Regions from separate parts of the Homo sapiens genome. Here region 1 is linked to region 2. A link means that fine-mapping ties the variant in region 2 to the expression of a gene that starts in the linked region. Tissue or cell type: whole blood. Region 2 holds a variant in brackets; the other region holds the start of a gene. All regions are shown on one strand. Distances are from middle to middle.

Region 1 (8,095 bases), 350 kb before region 2:
AATTTTTGTATTTTTAGTAGAGACAGGGTTTCACCATGTTGGCCAGGCTGATCTCAAACTCCTGACCTCAGGTGATCCACCTGCCTCGGCTTCCCAAAGTGCTGGGATTACAGGTGTGAGACACCGTGCCTGACATTTTTTTTCTTGAGACAGGGTCTTGTGTTCTCACCCTGTCCCCCAGGCTGGAGTACAGTGGCCACGATGGTGGCTCACTGCAGCCTCAACCTCCTGGGTCAACTGATTCTCCTGCCTCAGCCTCCCTAGTAGCTGGGACTACAGGTGCATGCCACTATGCCTGGCTTTTTTTTTTTTTTTTTTTTTTTTTTGTAGAGATGGGGTCTCACTATGTTGCCGAGGCTGGTCTCAAACTCCCGGGCTCAAGCAATCCTACCACCTCGGCCTCTCAGAGTGCTGGGATTACAGGTGTGAGTTGCTGTACCCAGCCCACCTTGCCTTCTTAGACCACCTCCTCCACCCTCTTCCCAACTTCCAGTTATGACTGTTACAAGTCTGCCACGGGCCAGGCCCTGTCCTATGCACTTTGGGTCTCCCTGCTCCCCTCCTGGCCCTGAAGATCATTTCCCTCATGCAGCCAGAGGGTCCCTGTGTACACCCATGACGCATCATATTCCGCACCCCTGGGCACACCAGCATCCTTGAAATTACTCCCCAGGACAGGCCTGTCTCAGGGCCTTTGCACTGGCTGTTCCCTCTGCCTGGAAGGCCCTTCCCTCAGCTGTCCCTGGGGATCCCTCTCTCCGTTCCTTCTGTTCTTTGCTGATATGTTCCCTTCCCAGGCAGGCCTTCTCTGGCCACCTTTTTAATTTTTTTGAGACAGTCTCCCTTTGTCACCTAGGCTGGAGTGCAGTGATGCGATCTCAGCTCACTGCAAACTCTGCCTTCAGGATTCAAGTGATTCTCCCACATCAGGCTCTCAAGTAGCTGGGATTACAGGCACCTGTCACCATGCCTGGCTAATTTTGTATTTTCAGCAGAGATGAGATTTCGCCTTTTTTTTTTTTTTTTTTTTTTTTTTGAGATGGAGTCTCGCTCTTTCGCCCAGGCTGGAGTGCAGTGGCGCAATCTTGGCTCACTGCAAGCTCCGCCTCCTGGTTTCACGCCATTCTCCTGCCTCAGCCTCCCGAGTAGCTGGGACTACAGGCACCCGCCACCATGCCCAGCTAATTTTTTGTATTTTTAGTAGAGACGGGGTTTCACTGTGTTAGCCAGGATGGTCTCGATCTCCTGACCTCGTGATCCGCCCGTCTCTGCCTCCCAAAGTGCTGGGATTACAGACGTGAGCCACCACGCCCAGCCAGATGCGATTTTGCCATTTTGGCCAGGCTAGTCTCGAGCTCCTGACCTCAGGTGATCTGCCTGGCTTAGCCACCCAAAGTGCTGGGATTACAGGCGTAAGCCACCATGCCCGGCCAGGCCACCCTATTTAAGGGGACAATTTAAAGGGAACCTCTGTCCGCACATACACTCCCCATCTCCCTTCCCTCCTCATTTTCTTCATAGCACTTAATATCATCTGACATCTTACATATTTGACTTTTTTTTTTTTTTTTTTTGAGACAGAGTCTCACTCTTGTTGCCCAGGCTGTAGTGCAATGGCACGATCTCGGCTCACCGAAACCTCCACTTCCCAGGTTCAAGTGATTCTCCTGCCTCAGCCTCCTGAGTAGCTGGGATTACAGGCATGCGCCACCACGCCCTGGTAATTTTGTATTTTTAGTAGAGACAGGGTTTCTCCATTTTGGTCAGGCTGGTCTTGAACTCCCGATCTCAGGTGATCTGCCTGCCTAGGCCTCCTAAAGTGCTGGGATTACAGGCCTGAGCTACCGCGCCCGGCCTGGACTTATTTTTTATGTTTCCCCTACTAGGACATCAGCTCCACGAGGGCAGGGGTCTCTGTCCTGTTCACTCCTCCATCCCTAGTGCCAGGACACAGAATAGGCACTCAGTGAAGAAGTAAACAATAAATAAATAAACAACAGGCTGGGCAGAGTGGCTCATACCAGTGCCTGATCCTCCCAGCACTTTAGGAGGCCGAGGCTAGAGGATCGCTTGAGCACAGGAGTTCAAGACCAGCCTGGGCAACATAACAAGACTTTGTCTCTACAAAACAAATAATAATAATAAATAAAAATTAAAAATTAAATTAGTTGGGCATGGTGGCACATGTCTGTAGTCCCATCTGCTTGGAAAGATGAGGTAGGAGGATCACTTTAGCCCAGGAGTTGGAGGCCGAAGTGAGCTATAATATTGTGCCACTGCACTCCAGCTTGGGCAACAGAGCAAGACCCTATCTCTAAGGAAAAAAAAAGTCCTATGAGGCCAATCATTATCAACGTGTTAAGGCCCTTTTTAAAAAGCTAAGACTGGGCCAGGCGCAGTGGCTCACGCCTGTAATCCCAGCACTTTGGGAGGCCGAGATGGGAGGATCACTTGAGGTCAGGAGTTCGAGACCAGCCTGACCAACATGGTGAAACCCCATCTCTACTAAAAATACAAAAATTAGCCAGTGTGCTGGCACATGCCTGTAATCCCAGCTACTCAAGAGGCTGAGGCAGGAGAATCGCTTGAACCTGGGAGACAGAGGTTGCAGTGAGCCAAGATCATGCCATTGCACTCCAGCCTGGGCGACAAGAGCAAAACTCCATCTCAAAACAAAAAAAAAAACAAAAAAAACAAAAACAGAAAAGAAAAGAAAATGAAGCACAGAGAGGTATAGTCACTTTCACTCTTTCACCAACACAGAGCTGGGGAGTGGCAGAGCTGGGATTTTAACTCGGGGACCCGGCTCTGAGCCTGTGATCTGAATTCCTGCCATTGCACCCATCAGCTTCAGTCTAATGTCCAACTCAGGGACTGCCTCTCACGGTGAGCCCTCCCTGAACCTTCTGGCCCCCACGTCCCCACTCCTGATCTGCCCCAGATTCATCTCTGGCTATTGGGTGGGGCAGAAAAAGAGTCCCCTCTCCACCAGGGTGGGGTAAGGGCAGAAAGCCCCCAACAGCCAGGCCCAGAGCACCCAGTTGGAAGTCCCCTGCCAGCCCGGCCTGGCTTGGGGAGGGTCTTACCGCTTCATGTGCTCGCTGGCCACTCCTTGGATGTAAACAGACATTCCCACGTTGAGCCCGCCCGGGATGGGCTGGTAGTAAGGCAGCGTCTGGAGAAGAGGCCTGGTGAGGGGACTCACAAGCCATCTGCCTGTTGCAGCCTTTACCCCTCCCAGAAAAGCCCCCCAGTCCCTTAAGCAGGAGAGAGGAAACCATGGGGGAGGACCAGGTTGAAGATGACGAGGGCCAACAGTTAGACGTGGACACAGACAGCCTGAGGTCAGGGTAGGAGTAAATCGAGGGTCGGGGTCAGCTTTGGGTAAATCAGACCACAGAGTCAGATGGGGCCCCCCAGGATCAGAGTGGGGAAAATTGGTGTGAGGGCTTATGGACGGAGCTGCGGGCGGAGTGGGGCCTGAGCTGGCATCTCACCGGGTTGTAGGTGGGCTGGTAGCCCGGTGCGGGGACATAGGCCATCGCTCGAGGCTGCGCTAGTGGCTGGTCCTGTGAGAAGAGCTGCAGGAGTGGGAGATGGTGGCGGATGGCAGGCGGTGGTGGCTCTTATACCCAGGGTAAGGGAGTGGCTGGCAGGGGAGGGTCCACAGGGCTCCTCTTCTGGGACTCTCAGGCTGTCGGCTTCTCCTAGAGCGCACCCTAGTCTCCCTTCCCTTGCCAGCTTCCCTGGTGACCAGCCAGGACCCAAATCACCTGGGTCCCCTCCCCTACGCCCTCCTGCAAAGAGGAAGTGCTCATGAACTTCGGCCCTGCCAGGGCCTTATCAGAGCCCATAAAACCCTGCCCAGACTTCTGTTGGCAGAGGGAGGGTGAGACCAGGCAGGGCAGGGCAGGCTGCAGGAATGACCCAGGACAGGTGGGCAGCGGAGGAGGAGAACGCGGAGGAACTGCAAATTCCTGCCTCTCCCAGCAACTGTGAAGGGACCTACGTTGATTGCGTGCCCACCACACATCTTTACCACGTATGTTGTATTGTAGGGAGAGTGGTTTAGATTACTAGTGTGTGGAGCCAGAGGTTCTAGGTTCAAATCCTGCCTTTGCCACTTCTCAGCTGTATGATCATGGGTCAGTGCCTTACCCTCAATTTGCCCATGTGCTCATCTGTAAAATGGGGATATAGTAGTATCGGCTGGGTGCAGTGGCTCATGCCTGTAATCCCAGCACTTTGACTGGCCGAGGTGGATGGATCACCTGAGGGCAGGAGTTCGAGACCAGCCTGGCAAAATCCCAGTCTCTACTAAAAATACAAAAATTAGCCAGGCATGGTGGTGGGTGCCTATAATCCCATCTACTTGGAGGCTGAGGCAGGAGAATCACTTGAACCTGAGTGGAGGAGAGTGCAGTGAGCCAAGGTCACGCCACTGCACTCCAGCTTGGATGACAGATGGAGACTCTGTTTCAAAAAAAAAAAAAAAAAAAAAGGAATTCATAAGAGAGGAAACAAGTATTGAATAGCTATCAAAATATTTTAAAAATGAATTTGTGATCCAGTAATGCCTGTATGTTATTAATCTGCCAAATAAGTTCTAGCTGTGGGTCCAACTGCCACTCAGAAAAATAAATAAATAAAGAAAAGAGTAGTATCAACCTTAGGCTGGGTGTGGTGGCTTGTGCCTACAATCCCAGCAATTTGGGAAGCTGAAGCAGGAGGACTGCTTGAGCCCAGGAGTTCAAGACCAGCCTGGGCAACATAGTGAGACCCCCATCTCTACAAAAATAAAATAAAAATTAGCTGGGCATGGTAGCACACATCTGTATTCCTAGCTACTCAGAGGCTGAGGCAGGAGGATCGCTTGAACCCAGGAGTTAAGGTTACAGTGAGCTATGATCATGCCACTGCACTCCAGCCTGGGTGACAGACTAAGAGTCCGTCTCTAAAAATAGCAACAATAATAGTCATAATAATAATAATCATAATAGTATCAACTTCATAGAGTCCTTGATCATTAAGATAATAAATGCTCAGAACAGGACATAGCATATAGAAGTCATTAACTTAATGCTTGGTCTCTTGCAGTCATTCCAAACATAAATCCGGAAGATTGGGATGATATATGGATAAAAAATCCCAAAGTTTTGTTTGCTCATTTTTGAGACAGAGTCTTGCTCTATCACCCAGGCTGCAGTGCAGTGGCACCATCTCAGCTCACTGCAACCTCCACCTCCCAGGTTCAAGGGATTCTCCTGCCTCAGCCTTCTGAATAGCTGGGATTACAGGCTTACTCCACGCCTGGCTAATTTTTGTATTTTTAGTAGAGACCAGGTTTTGCCATGTTGGCCAGGCTGGTCTCAAACTCCTGACCTCAAGTGATCCACCTGCCTCAACCTCCCAAAGTGCTGGAATTACAGGCATGAGCCACTGCACCCGGCCAGAAACCCCAAAGTCCTTTTTTGTTTTGTTTTTTCTTTTTTTGAGACAGAGTCTCACTCTGTCACCCAGGCTGGACTGCAGCAGCATGATCTCAGCTCACTGCAAACTCACCTCCTGGGTTCAAGGATTCTCCTGCCTCAGCCTCCCGAGTAGCTGGGACTAGAGGCACCTGCCACCACACCTAGCTAATTTTTGTATTTTTAGTAGAGACTGGGTTTCAACATGTTGACTAGGCTGGTTGCAAACTCCTGAGCTCAGGCAATCCACCTGCGTCAGCCTCCAAAAGTGCTGGGATTACAGGTGTGAGACGCCAGCATCAGATCCCATGTGCTGTGCAGTGAGAGGTGCCAGGCAGGGCACGAACGCCACCCTCAACCCCAGGGCAGGCAGGGAGACCAGGAAGCCTTGCAACCCAGAGGGACCCCAGCGACTTTTGCTCACTCCCTCCGCCCCGGAATTCCTTGTGCCCCTCGCCTGCCCGCTGCCAGTCTGAATGGCCATCACCTCCATGCCACCCATTCCCATGCATCCAACCTCTAGCCCCAGCCTTCAGGACTGCAGTCTCTGGAGCCCCTAGGTGCATCCCAGCCCCTCCCACCTCTCCTCTATCCAAGAAGGGCACCAGGTTCTTTACTTTGCTTTATTGTTTGTGGGGTGAAGATAAGGCCTTGGGCTTGAGAAACTCATTGTCATAAAGTTATAAACTGGGAAACTGGGTCAGAAGGCATAGAAACAACTGTCATCGCCCATCCTCCCTTTCTGTGGATGAGGCGGGACAAGGCCGGCCCCCTGGCTGGGGCCTGGGACGCGAGGGCTCTCAGAGCTTGGAGAAGGTGACGGTTTTCAGTTCCTTGTTCTCAGTCGTGGCCTGGACCGACTTCACGAGGTCTTGGGTCTGCAGCATGCTCATGTTCCAGGACGCCTGGTACCGAGGGTGTTGAGAGAGAACGAGGAGAGAGATTAGCAGGGGCCAATCAGGATAAAGCATGAGAGCACCCTGCACCCTGGTTGGTCGCCTGGGGTTAGAGGAGGGCTGTGATTGGTCGGAGCGTGCACCTTACCACGTAGTTGAGGCTCTCGGCCACCGAATGGTCGCGGGAATACAGCAGGTTGACCTTGGTGCTCTGCACCGCCACGGGGCTCTTGCTGGAAATCTCGGCCGCCAGCGCTAAGGCAGCATCCAGCATGACCTCTTTGTCTGGGAACACCCGGCTGCAGTGAAAGAGATCAGGGACCGGGTGGGCTGGGAAGGGCTCTCTCCTCCAGCCTCCCGCAGATGAAGAAGTGGCCACTCACAGAGGAAGGCCCAAGACCCCAGAGAAACAGCCCAATCAGAGCAGGGGGCTGACCCCACAATAAAGAAATGAGCTCACCAAGAAAGGATGCCACTAGGAATTCTAGAGCGAGGAGACAAGGGGACCCGGAGAGGCCTCCAACCCTCCAGGCCTGGCTGCCCCCAGCACTGAGCTACCACGGCCATGGCCCTACCTGACCAGCCCACTGCCCAGGGCCTCGTCAGCCATCATCTTGCGGGCGGTGAAGGCCAGCTCGTTGACCAGGCTGCAAAGGCAAGCGTGCATCAGGAGGCGGCTGCCACCCCGGGGCTGGGAGATGCTCTGGGGTCTCCTGCCCACACCCCCACACCCCCTGCACCCACCTCTGGTTCCCGATGACCTTGGGCAGGCGCTGCAGTGTTCCTACATCGGCAGCCAAACCCACGTCCACCTCCTGGGGGAGGAATCGGGTCAGTGTTTGGTTTCTGCCCAATACTGTGCCCCTCGCAATGTCAACGTCCATGAAATTTCATGTCTACTGGAGAGTCCCGCCCCACCTTCACCCCAGTGACTTCCTCCAAAGTCCCATTCCATTGCCCAGGCAGCTTCTTGACTCAGGCAAGTTCCTTCAACCTAGAATAGAGCCCACCTTCCCACTCATGCACCCTCCCATTCCCTCAGGGCAGCTCCATCTGTGAGAGAGGAACCCTCCTCACCCTACCTGAGACCCCTTTACTGCATCCCCCGGCTCCATCCTGCCTCCCACCCTCACCAGTATGGCCCCAGGAGCAATCTCTGCCTCTGACACCTGCCAGCCTCAACCCCACCTCATACCTTACCCACTCACAACTTCACCTCTTGACTTCCTCTATGGGCAAGTCTTACTTTGTCGGGTTCAACTCCGACTCTTCCATGAAGCCCTCGAGGCTCACTCCAGGCCCCCCAACCTCACCCCACTGCCCAGCTCTAAGCAGGAGCTCGGGAGGATGACTCACCTTCACCTGGAAGAAAGCATCCTGGGCACAGTACCGGATGTCACAGGCGGTGACAAGGTCCACACCTAGGAGGTAGAGGCCAGGGATGCTGAATGACCACCAGAACCAACCCTGGCTCCCGGGAGGTGGGGCTGCCTCTTGGGACACAGTCTGGCCCATGACAGAGCTGAGGCTGGATGCCAGTGGCCGCGGCATCGGAGCAGCAGCCCCACCTGGGGAGCACCCGAGCAGGAGGATAGCCGCAGACTCACCTCCGCCAATGCAGCCCCCATGGACGGCAGCAATCACGGGCTTGGGGCACTGAGAGGGAACAGGAAGAGTGGGGTCAGGGCTGGCCCAGGGGAGGCGCGTATGGAGAAAGATCCCCTCCAGACC
Region 2 (8,100 bases):
AGCCCCTGCCTATGAGCTCACGCTGCAGCCCTCGGCCAGTCCTGCCACCTCCACCTTTACAGTGTGCCCAGAACCTGCTCATGCCGCCCCCTCTGCAGCCCCCACAAGGTCCTGCCCCCTTGATTTCCACTGGGCCATCACAGCCTCCTCCTCCCTGGTCCCCCTTTCCGTTCTGCCCCCACAGACTGTTCCCAGCCAGTGGGAGCCTGTGAACTCCTGAGTCAGGCGGTGGCCCTCCTGGGCTCAGAGACCCCTGCAACTCCGTCTCACTCGGGAAAGGACCAGGCCCTCCCGGTGGCCCCCAAAGCCCCACACGATCTGCCCCATTACCTCCTTGGCCTGTCCTTCCACTTGCCCCCTCGCCCACCCTGCTCCAGCCACGTGGCCTCCTCGCTGTCCCTTGACCATATCAAGCAAATTCCTACCGCCCTGGCTGTTCCTTCCTCCTGGGCTGCCCTTCCTCCAGAGCCCTACATGGCTCCCTCTCCCCTCCTCACGCAGGTCCCTGCTCACGTGTCCCCTTCTCAGCAAGGCCTGCCTGACCACTTTATTTTATAATAATAGTTATTATTATTATTTTGAGATGGAGTCTCACACTCTGTCGCCCAGGCTGGAGTGCAATGGTGCGATCTTGGCTCGCTGCAACTTCCACCTCCCAGGTTCAAGCGATTCTCCTGCCTCAGCCTCCCAAGTAGCTGGGACTACAGGCGCCTGCCACCACGCCAGGCTAATTTTTTGTATTTTTAGTGGAGATGGGATTTCACCATGTTGGCCAGGCTGGTCTCCAACTTCTGACCTCAAGTGATCTGCCTGCCTTGGCCTCCAAAAGTTCTGGGATTACAGGCATAAGCCACTGCACCCAGCCTGTTATTCTTATTTTTGAGACAAGGTCTCACCCTGTCACCTAGGCTGGAGTGCAGTGGCACGATCACTCACTGCAGCCTCGACCTCCCAGGCTCGGGTGATTCTCCCGCCTCAGCCTCCTCAGTAGCTGGGACCACAGGCGCACACCACCACACCTGGCTAAATTTTTATTTATTTTTTATTTTTGGGGTAGAGACAGGGTCTCACTAGGTTGCCCAAGCTGATCTTGAACTCCTGGGCTCAAGCGATCCTCCCTCCTTGGCCTCCCAAAGTGCTGGGATTACAGGCGTGAACCACCGTGCCCGGCCTTGACCACTTTATTGAGAATTCCAGCCTCCCCTCCCCTCAGCTCCTTTCTGATTGCTGCGTTATTTTCTATGTCAGCATTTCTCACCCGACTTAGTAGATGTTTTTCTGATTTATCTCATACATTGACTGCCTCCTTCCTTCTAGAATGTGAGTGCTGCGAGGACAGGGATGTTTCTGACTGTTGGGTGCACTGCTATGGGCCCCAGGCCCAGCAGAGTCAGCCCTTGGTAGACATGGACGGGTGCGTGGGTCGATGCGTGGGTGGGTGTGATCGGGTCACTTGTGGGTGGAGTAGGTGTTTGCTAAGGCAGACTCTGGGGATGTGTCGGTCCCAAACCTGAGGACTCCTTGGAGGAACGAGGCTCAGTGTGGGAGGCCTGAAGAGAGATGTGGTTAGAGGAGGGTTGGGGGCCGTGCAGGATGGGGGCAAGAGCTAAGCCAAGGTTTGGAGGCAGGAATGGCTTGGGGGACTCAGGACAGCGAGGAGCCTGCTGTGCCGGGACGGGAAGCCAAACTCCCAGCGCCTCCACCATCAAAGCACATGCCAGAAGGTAGGAGGTAAACTGAGGCAGGGAGGGGCCCTCCCAGAGCTGGTAGGTGAAGATTGTGGCAGGGTGGTGAGTGGGACCCAATGGTGGAAGGCTGAGTGCAGGCTGGAGGCAGTGAGCGGTCTGGGTCCCCTTCCTGATTCGAGTTTCATTTTGGTAACGATGAAAGGATGCCTGTGGTCCTGGCCACCTCCCCTGCTCTGCCCCTGGGCCCCTGTGTTCTGGGTGGGCCAGCCCCCTCCCTTCCAGGGGCAGCAGCTTTGATCAGAGCCTGGAGGGGGCGGGGCAGGAGGTAAGGGTTTTTGCACGCTCACGTCTGCTGACACTGACAGCTTTGTCGCACGGTGGATCTTGCTTTTCCATTTGGGCCAGTTAACCTTGTGGGGGAGAATGGGGGTGGTGGGACCCTTTTCCTCCCAGAAAAGGTCAGAGGATGCAGGGGGTGACTGGAAAATCTGAAGTGTCTGCTAGGCCAGGTCAACGCTGCCTGTCCCGCATGTTAAAGAATTCAAAAGATTTTTTAAAATTTGAAATAAACATTTTAGAGTAGGATACAAAATGCGCTTGCATTTCTGGGATCAAATACTGGACTTCAGAGGCATCTGTGCCCCGGCTGGGGCAGAAGGCTGCACCTTCCTGCTGCTCTGGGACTACTGCCCCCAGGTCCCAGCTGCTTATCTGAAAGATTTCCCGGGTGCTGCTGGGCCTTGTCCAAGGCCTCTGAGCAGGGGAATAATGCAGCGGACAGGGACGATCATTCCACGGAGTCCCTACTGTGTGCTGCCCTGGGCTACGAGGGGGTAAGACAGAGGACAGTCCCTGCCCTGTGAAGCTGACACATTCTAAGGGAGAGGCAGATGCTAAAGAATTACACATATGGCTGGGCCCGGTGGCTCACGCCTGTAATCCCAACACTTTGGGAGGCTGAGGCAGGTGGATCACCTGAGGTGAGGAGTTCAAGACCAGCCTGGCCAACATGGTAAAACCCCATCTCTACTAAGAATACATAAATTAGCCGGGTATGGTGGCGGACGCCTGTAATCCCAGCTTCTTGGGAGGCTGAGGCAGGAGAAGCACATGAACCCACTAGGCGGAGGTTGCAGTGAGCCAAGATCATGCCATTGCACTCCAGCCTGGGCAACAAGAGTGAAACTCTGTCTCAAAAAAAAAAAAAAAAAAAAAGAATTATACACACACACACAAGCACGCCATATATGTGGTAAGAGCCCTGAGGAAAGATAAAGCAGAGACAGGTGTAGAGGGCGACAGGACAGGAGCAGGGCTTGTGAGCACAGGCGGGCCTGGGAAGTCAGGGAAGGTGGGAGATCAGTGAGAGGAGAGTTCCAGGTGGGGCACTCGCCCATGCAAAGGCCCTGAGGTGGAACCATGTCTAGGATTTGAGGAACAGCAGGGGGACCTGTGTGGCCAGGGCACAGTGAGTACAGGGGTGCTTGGGAGAAGAGGAGGGCAGCATGGTGATGGGCGCATCCTGTGGGGACTCTCAGGCCACGAGGAGGCATTTTGGGGGCCAGCAAAGGGTTTAAGGCTGTGAACTCTGGAGTGGGCAGGACTCTGGAATGGGCAGGACTCTGGCTTCCAGGCCCAGCTCTGCTCGGTGAGCTTAGTGAGAGATTTTACCTTTGTGAGTCTCTGTTTCCACAGCTGCAAAATGGGGCTCAGAATGGCCACTCCACCGTGGTTGAGGGCGCCTGCGAGCTCAGCGTCAGCGTCTGCTCTGGGCCATGGGTCCCTTGTGGTGGTGGCGATGGTGGTGGGAGTACCGAGCTGAGCCTCAGGCCACATTTGGTGGGAGGGGTTGGTTTTAAGCATCTTTCCTGCTGCACAGGCCCATGGGAAAGGCTGGTGTACAGCCATTGGGGAGGTGGGGGCCCCGGGGCCCACTTTGTGCTTCCTCCCACTACCCGTGGGGTCCAGGACAGGTCACACAGGAGGGAGGGACCCTCACTCAGCAGAGACTAGGCAGGAGAGGAAAGGCAAGGTCTGGGTGTAGACAGAAAGAATGGGAACGGAGGGAGAGGGGAGGCCAGGACCAGCCTTGAGAGGATGATGATGATGATGATAATAATAATAATAATAATAATAAGGCCGGGCGCGGTGGCTCACGCCTGTAATCCCAGCATTTTGGAAGGCCGAGGCAGGTGGATCATGAGGTCAGGAGATCGAGACCATCCTGCCTAACACAGTGAAACCCCATCTCTACTAAAAATACAAAAAAAAAAAAAAAAAAATTAGCCGGGCATGGTGGTGGGCACCTATAGTCCCAGCTACTGGGGAGGCTGAGGCAGGAGAATGGCGCAAACCCGGGAGGCGGAGGTTGCAGTGAGCTGAGATTGCACCACTGCACTCCAGCCTGGGCGACAGAGCAAGACTCCCTCTCAAAATAAATAAATAAATAAATAAATAAATAAATAAATAAAA[T/TAAATAA]AATAATAGACAAAACCAACAGTGTCACCTCAGCCCTCCAGGGCAGCAGGACAGGCAGGTAAGAGCCCAGCCTTCAGTGCCTTCCATACACAACCGCCCAGGTTCAAATCCTGGCTGCTTCTCATGTCTGCCTCTCACTGGCTGCTTCTCCTGTCCATGCCCTGGACAAGGGCCTTCCCTTCTCTGGGCCTCAGTTTTCCCATTCATGAATTGGGATGAGGATGCTTGTGAGGATGGAACGGGATTAGACGCACAGCAGGGCCGGAACCCGCGAATCTCTGCAGACAGGCCTGGAGTCTGGTGTCCACTCTGCCACCCTAGCTGGGCCACCTGGGTTAATGAGGTCCCCCTCTGTGCCTTGTTTTCCCTGTCTGTAATCCGGGGCTTATTAATGGCCCCTCCCTCCAGGATCATATGTGGGACTCCGGGTAAAGTGCCTGGAAGAGGGCTGGTATACAGTAGGTACTCAGTAAGTGCTGGCTGCTATTGGAATGGTGACCGGCACTTACTGAGCACTTACTGTGTGTGTGATTTGCCTTGGTTCTGATCCCAACCACTGTCTCTGGGCCAGGCCCTCCGTGCCCTCTGTTCTGCGTAATTCCTTATAAAAACTCCAGGAAGGCCAGGCGCAGGGCTCACGCCTGTAATCCTAACACTTTGGGAAGCCAAGGCAGATCACTAGAGGTCAGACCAGCCTGGCCAACATGGTGAAACCCCATCTCTACTAAAAATACAAAAATTAGCTGGGCGTGGTGGCAGGCGCCTGTAATCCCAGCTACTTGGGAGGCTGAGGCAGGAGAATTGCTTGAAGCCGGGAGGCGGAGGTTGCAGTGAGCCAAGATCGCACCACTGCACTCCAGCCTGGGCGACAGAGCAAGACTCCGTTTAAAATAAATAAATAAATACTCCACGAAGCAGCTACTATTATCGCCGTCTTTGAACAGAGGAGGAAACTGAGGCACAGCGTGGCTGAGTTGCTCACCCAGGGCCACATATTGAGGTCCCCAGGTTGGGTTAGAGCTCCAGTTCACAGACACAGAAAGTGAGGTCATATAGGGCCAGTCGTGGCAGCCCTGCTGGGGTTTGGAGCCCTAGGCAGCCTGACTGCCAAGCTTGGAGCTGGCCTGGGAGCCCAGCCCCCACCCTTCCCTCCCTGCACCTGGGCAAGCCCAGCCTTTCTGCCTAGCTCTTCTCCCTCTTCCCAGGCCTGGCACGGCCTCTGTGGCCCCCATGAGGTCAGGAGCATCTGTTGGGAAGGGAGCGCCTGCTGGGGAAGCCGGCAGGGCTTGGAGCTGCACAGGACGGCCCAGGGTGGGGTCCCTGCCTGGTCATTATAAACATGTTCAGTTCCTCTGTTTGTCCTGCCCTCTGTGCAGTGCCCAGAGGGAAGGGGTGGCCCCAGGCAAATATCCGGAGGCGTGCCCCTTGCCCCCTTCCCTTGGGGGTTTATGGGTGGGAGGGCAGGAGGCCAGGCGTCGGAGGACATCCCCCAGACCCCATGCTGCCAGCTGGGCCAGCCGCCCGCCCTCCAGGCTGCTCTTGCCCCGTCCCCAGGTGTCCCCCACCTCAGGGTCTGCCCCGCTGTCCGCCCTCCGGGCTTAGTGAGGGGTCACATGGCTGATCCTCTTCCCGTGGCTCTGGGAACTGCCTAGTGCCCCGCAGTGGGGAGGGAGCGGGATGGGGCGGGGCGACAGGTTCACGATGAAGAGGCCTGGGCTGGGCATGGGGCCAAAGGGGGTGGAGGGACATCTGGGAGGACGGAGAGGCCGGAGGACATGGGACGCAGATCTGGAATGACAGCAGGCAGAGTGGGCAAATGGGGACTGTTGGGGTATGTGGATGACCCTGGGAGCTGGGCCTAGAAAGCCATGAGAGAGTAGGTCAGGGCCACCAGGGGTGGGCTGGGCTGGAAGGCCACGAGGGAGGGGTGGGCAGCACTCAGGGCGCCAGCATTGGGCTCAGAGAAGGGGCTGGGCAGAGACAAAGGAGGCCCCCCGTCCGCCCTCCATCCTGGGCCCCAGGGCAAGCAGGGAAACTGGGCCAACCCTGGGAGCCTTGGCCAGGCCCGGCTCTGACCACCCGCTGGCCTCTTGGGACCAGCTGAGACAGGTTGGCTGCCGGGCCCCCACCCCCCTCCCACGGGGCTCCCGCTGCCAAACCGGTTCCCCTGGCTGGCTCCCATGGATGGTCCTAGCTCTGGGCAGGGCCTCACCTTTCCCAGCTGCTCCCAGGAAGGCAGCCTGAGCCGGGAGGAGAAGTAGGTGTGGAGGGGCTACGTGCATCTGCGCGTCCTCTGTCCTCTCACTAGGGCTACAGGACTTGCTGTGCCACGCGCTGTGCCAGGCGCGGGGGAGCCAGCTGGGACAAGACAGAACAGAAACTCCACCTGCATGTCCCCTCGTCCCCTGGTCTCAACTCTTCCCCTCTTCCTGGAAGCCTTCCTGCTGCCCACCCCGCGTCCCTCCAGACTGGGTCCCGTGCTCCCGTCCCCCAGCCCTGACCACCCTGGGCAGCTGCTGCATGGGGACAGGTCTGTCTGCCCCACACGAATTTCCCATGAGGTCAAAGGCTGTCTGGGTCACTGCAGTGGCCACAGAGGAGGCCCATTGCTGAGTTATTCCCAAATGAATGAATGAATGAGTGAGTGAATGGATGCATTCCTCTCATTTTACAGATGAGTAACCCGAAGCCCCTAGAGGAGTGGTCACCTGCCTGAGGGCACTTCTGTCCCACCAGCATCAGACCAGGTGTGTGCAGGTGTGTGCGACTCCAGGGCCCAGGCCCGGGGCAGCTGGGGTGGGGCCTTAGGGGGGAGCAGGACCTGGGCCCCTCCTCCCACAGGCACTGTGGGAGCCGCCCCAGCCATCACAGTGGTCCCCACCGATAGGCCCCCCATATTTGCCCAGCCCTGCACCAAGCTCTTTGCTCCCAGTCACCCATTACCCCTCGCAGCAGCCCTGTGGGGGTTCATCCACAGCACAGAGAGGTTGTCACCTGCCCAAGGTCACGGCAGCATGTGATGGAGAGTCGAACTCTGGCCTCTTGGCTCCCCCTCCCATCTTTCTCCAGGCTCTCTATGGGATGCCGCCATCAGAATGTCTCTTCCTCAGCCCCTTTGTTTTTTAAAGTGGCTTTGGTCGACCATTTGCTCTGTGCTTGGTACTGTGTCAAGGGCCCGATTGAAGACCACAGATCCTAAAGATAGGGGAGTGTCGCGACAAGGCTGCCTGGGGTGCCCTCTTAACCCAGGGGATCAGTAACCCTGTGCTGAGTCAATATCCAAAGGTGTGGGCGTCCCCAGCCCAGACTCATGGCTGGACCAGTGGCAGTGGCCAGGCCATCAGTGACCGTCCATCCAGTACACACCATGTACCAGGCATAGCAGGGGATGTGGGGAAGCGGGGCAGACGAGACCCAGCCAGAATGTGGCACTGACACTCTAGCGGTGCGGTGTGGATGCTGCACTCATGAACCTAAGAAGGAACAACAAACAGGATTTCCATGAGTTCCGGGCTGTGACTGTGATGTAGAGCGGGGGGACGGCGGGACACGGGGCTCTTTGCCTTGGGGTGGTCAGGAAAGGAGTCACTGCTGCTCTGAGAACTGAAGGAGGGGACGGGGAGCCCTGTGCAGACACTGGGAAGTGAGCTCCTGGCAGAGGGGCCAGCCCGTGCAAAGGCTCTGAGGTCTCCAGGGGGGGTGAGAACAGAGAGGTGATGGGGCCTTGTGGGCCCGCAGGAGACAGAGCGGCAGGAAAGTTCTGAGCAGAGGGACGTGACCGCTCGGGTGCTCACGGGTACCCTCTGGCTGTGTGTGCCACACAGATGGGCGCAGGGGGTGGGCAGGGAGACCCAGAAGGAGGCTACTGCCTCCTGTTGGTCCCGGTGTAAGATGAGGATGGGAGGGACAGAGCAGGGGCAGAGGAGGAAGAGACATGGGC

Which allele goes with the higher level. Positions count from the first base shown, and alleles are read on the strand shown. Sizes are in standard deviations (SD) of each study's normalised expression.
With allele TAAATAA in place of T in region 2, the expression in whole blood of the gene that starts at base 3,601 in region 1 is lower (large effect, 0.82 SD a copy in TwinsUK).

What was found. PIP is the estimated chance that this variant, and not a neighbour inherited with it, causes the effect.
Region 1: it holds the start of LGALS4, and the variant in region 2 is fine-mapped to the expression of LGALS4 in whole blood (TwinsUK, PIP 0.95).

What each region holds. Positions count from the first base shown.
Region 1 is chr19:38,809,345-38,817,439 of GRCh38, forward strand. It overlaps LGALS4 (galectin 4), which reads right to left and starts at 3,601. Exons shown (of 10, transcript NM_006149.4): 1 at 3,498-3,601; 2 at 3,087-3,175. The coding sequence starts at 3,542. ECH1 (enoyl-CoA hydratase 1) reads right to left here. Exons shown (of 10, transcript NM_001398.3): 5 at 7,972-8,020; 6 at 7,721-7,785; 7 at 7,109-7,179; 8 at 6,940-7,011; 9 at 6,513-6,663; 10 at 6,078-6,373. The coding sequence ends at 6,269. RefSeq lists a silencer at 6,411-6,611.
Region 2 is chr19:39,161,396-39,169,495 of GRCh38, forward strand. PAK4 (p21 (RAC1) activated kinase 4) reads left to right here. Exons shown (of 10, transcript NM_005884.5): 2 at 6,835-6,907. Among named protein-coding and RNA genes, the nearest start is that of PAK4-AS1, 29 kb to the left of the region's middle. The variant T/TAAATAA (reference allele first, on the strand shown) is at 4,161.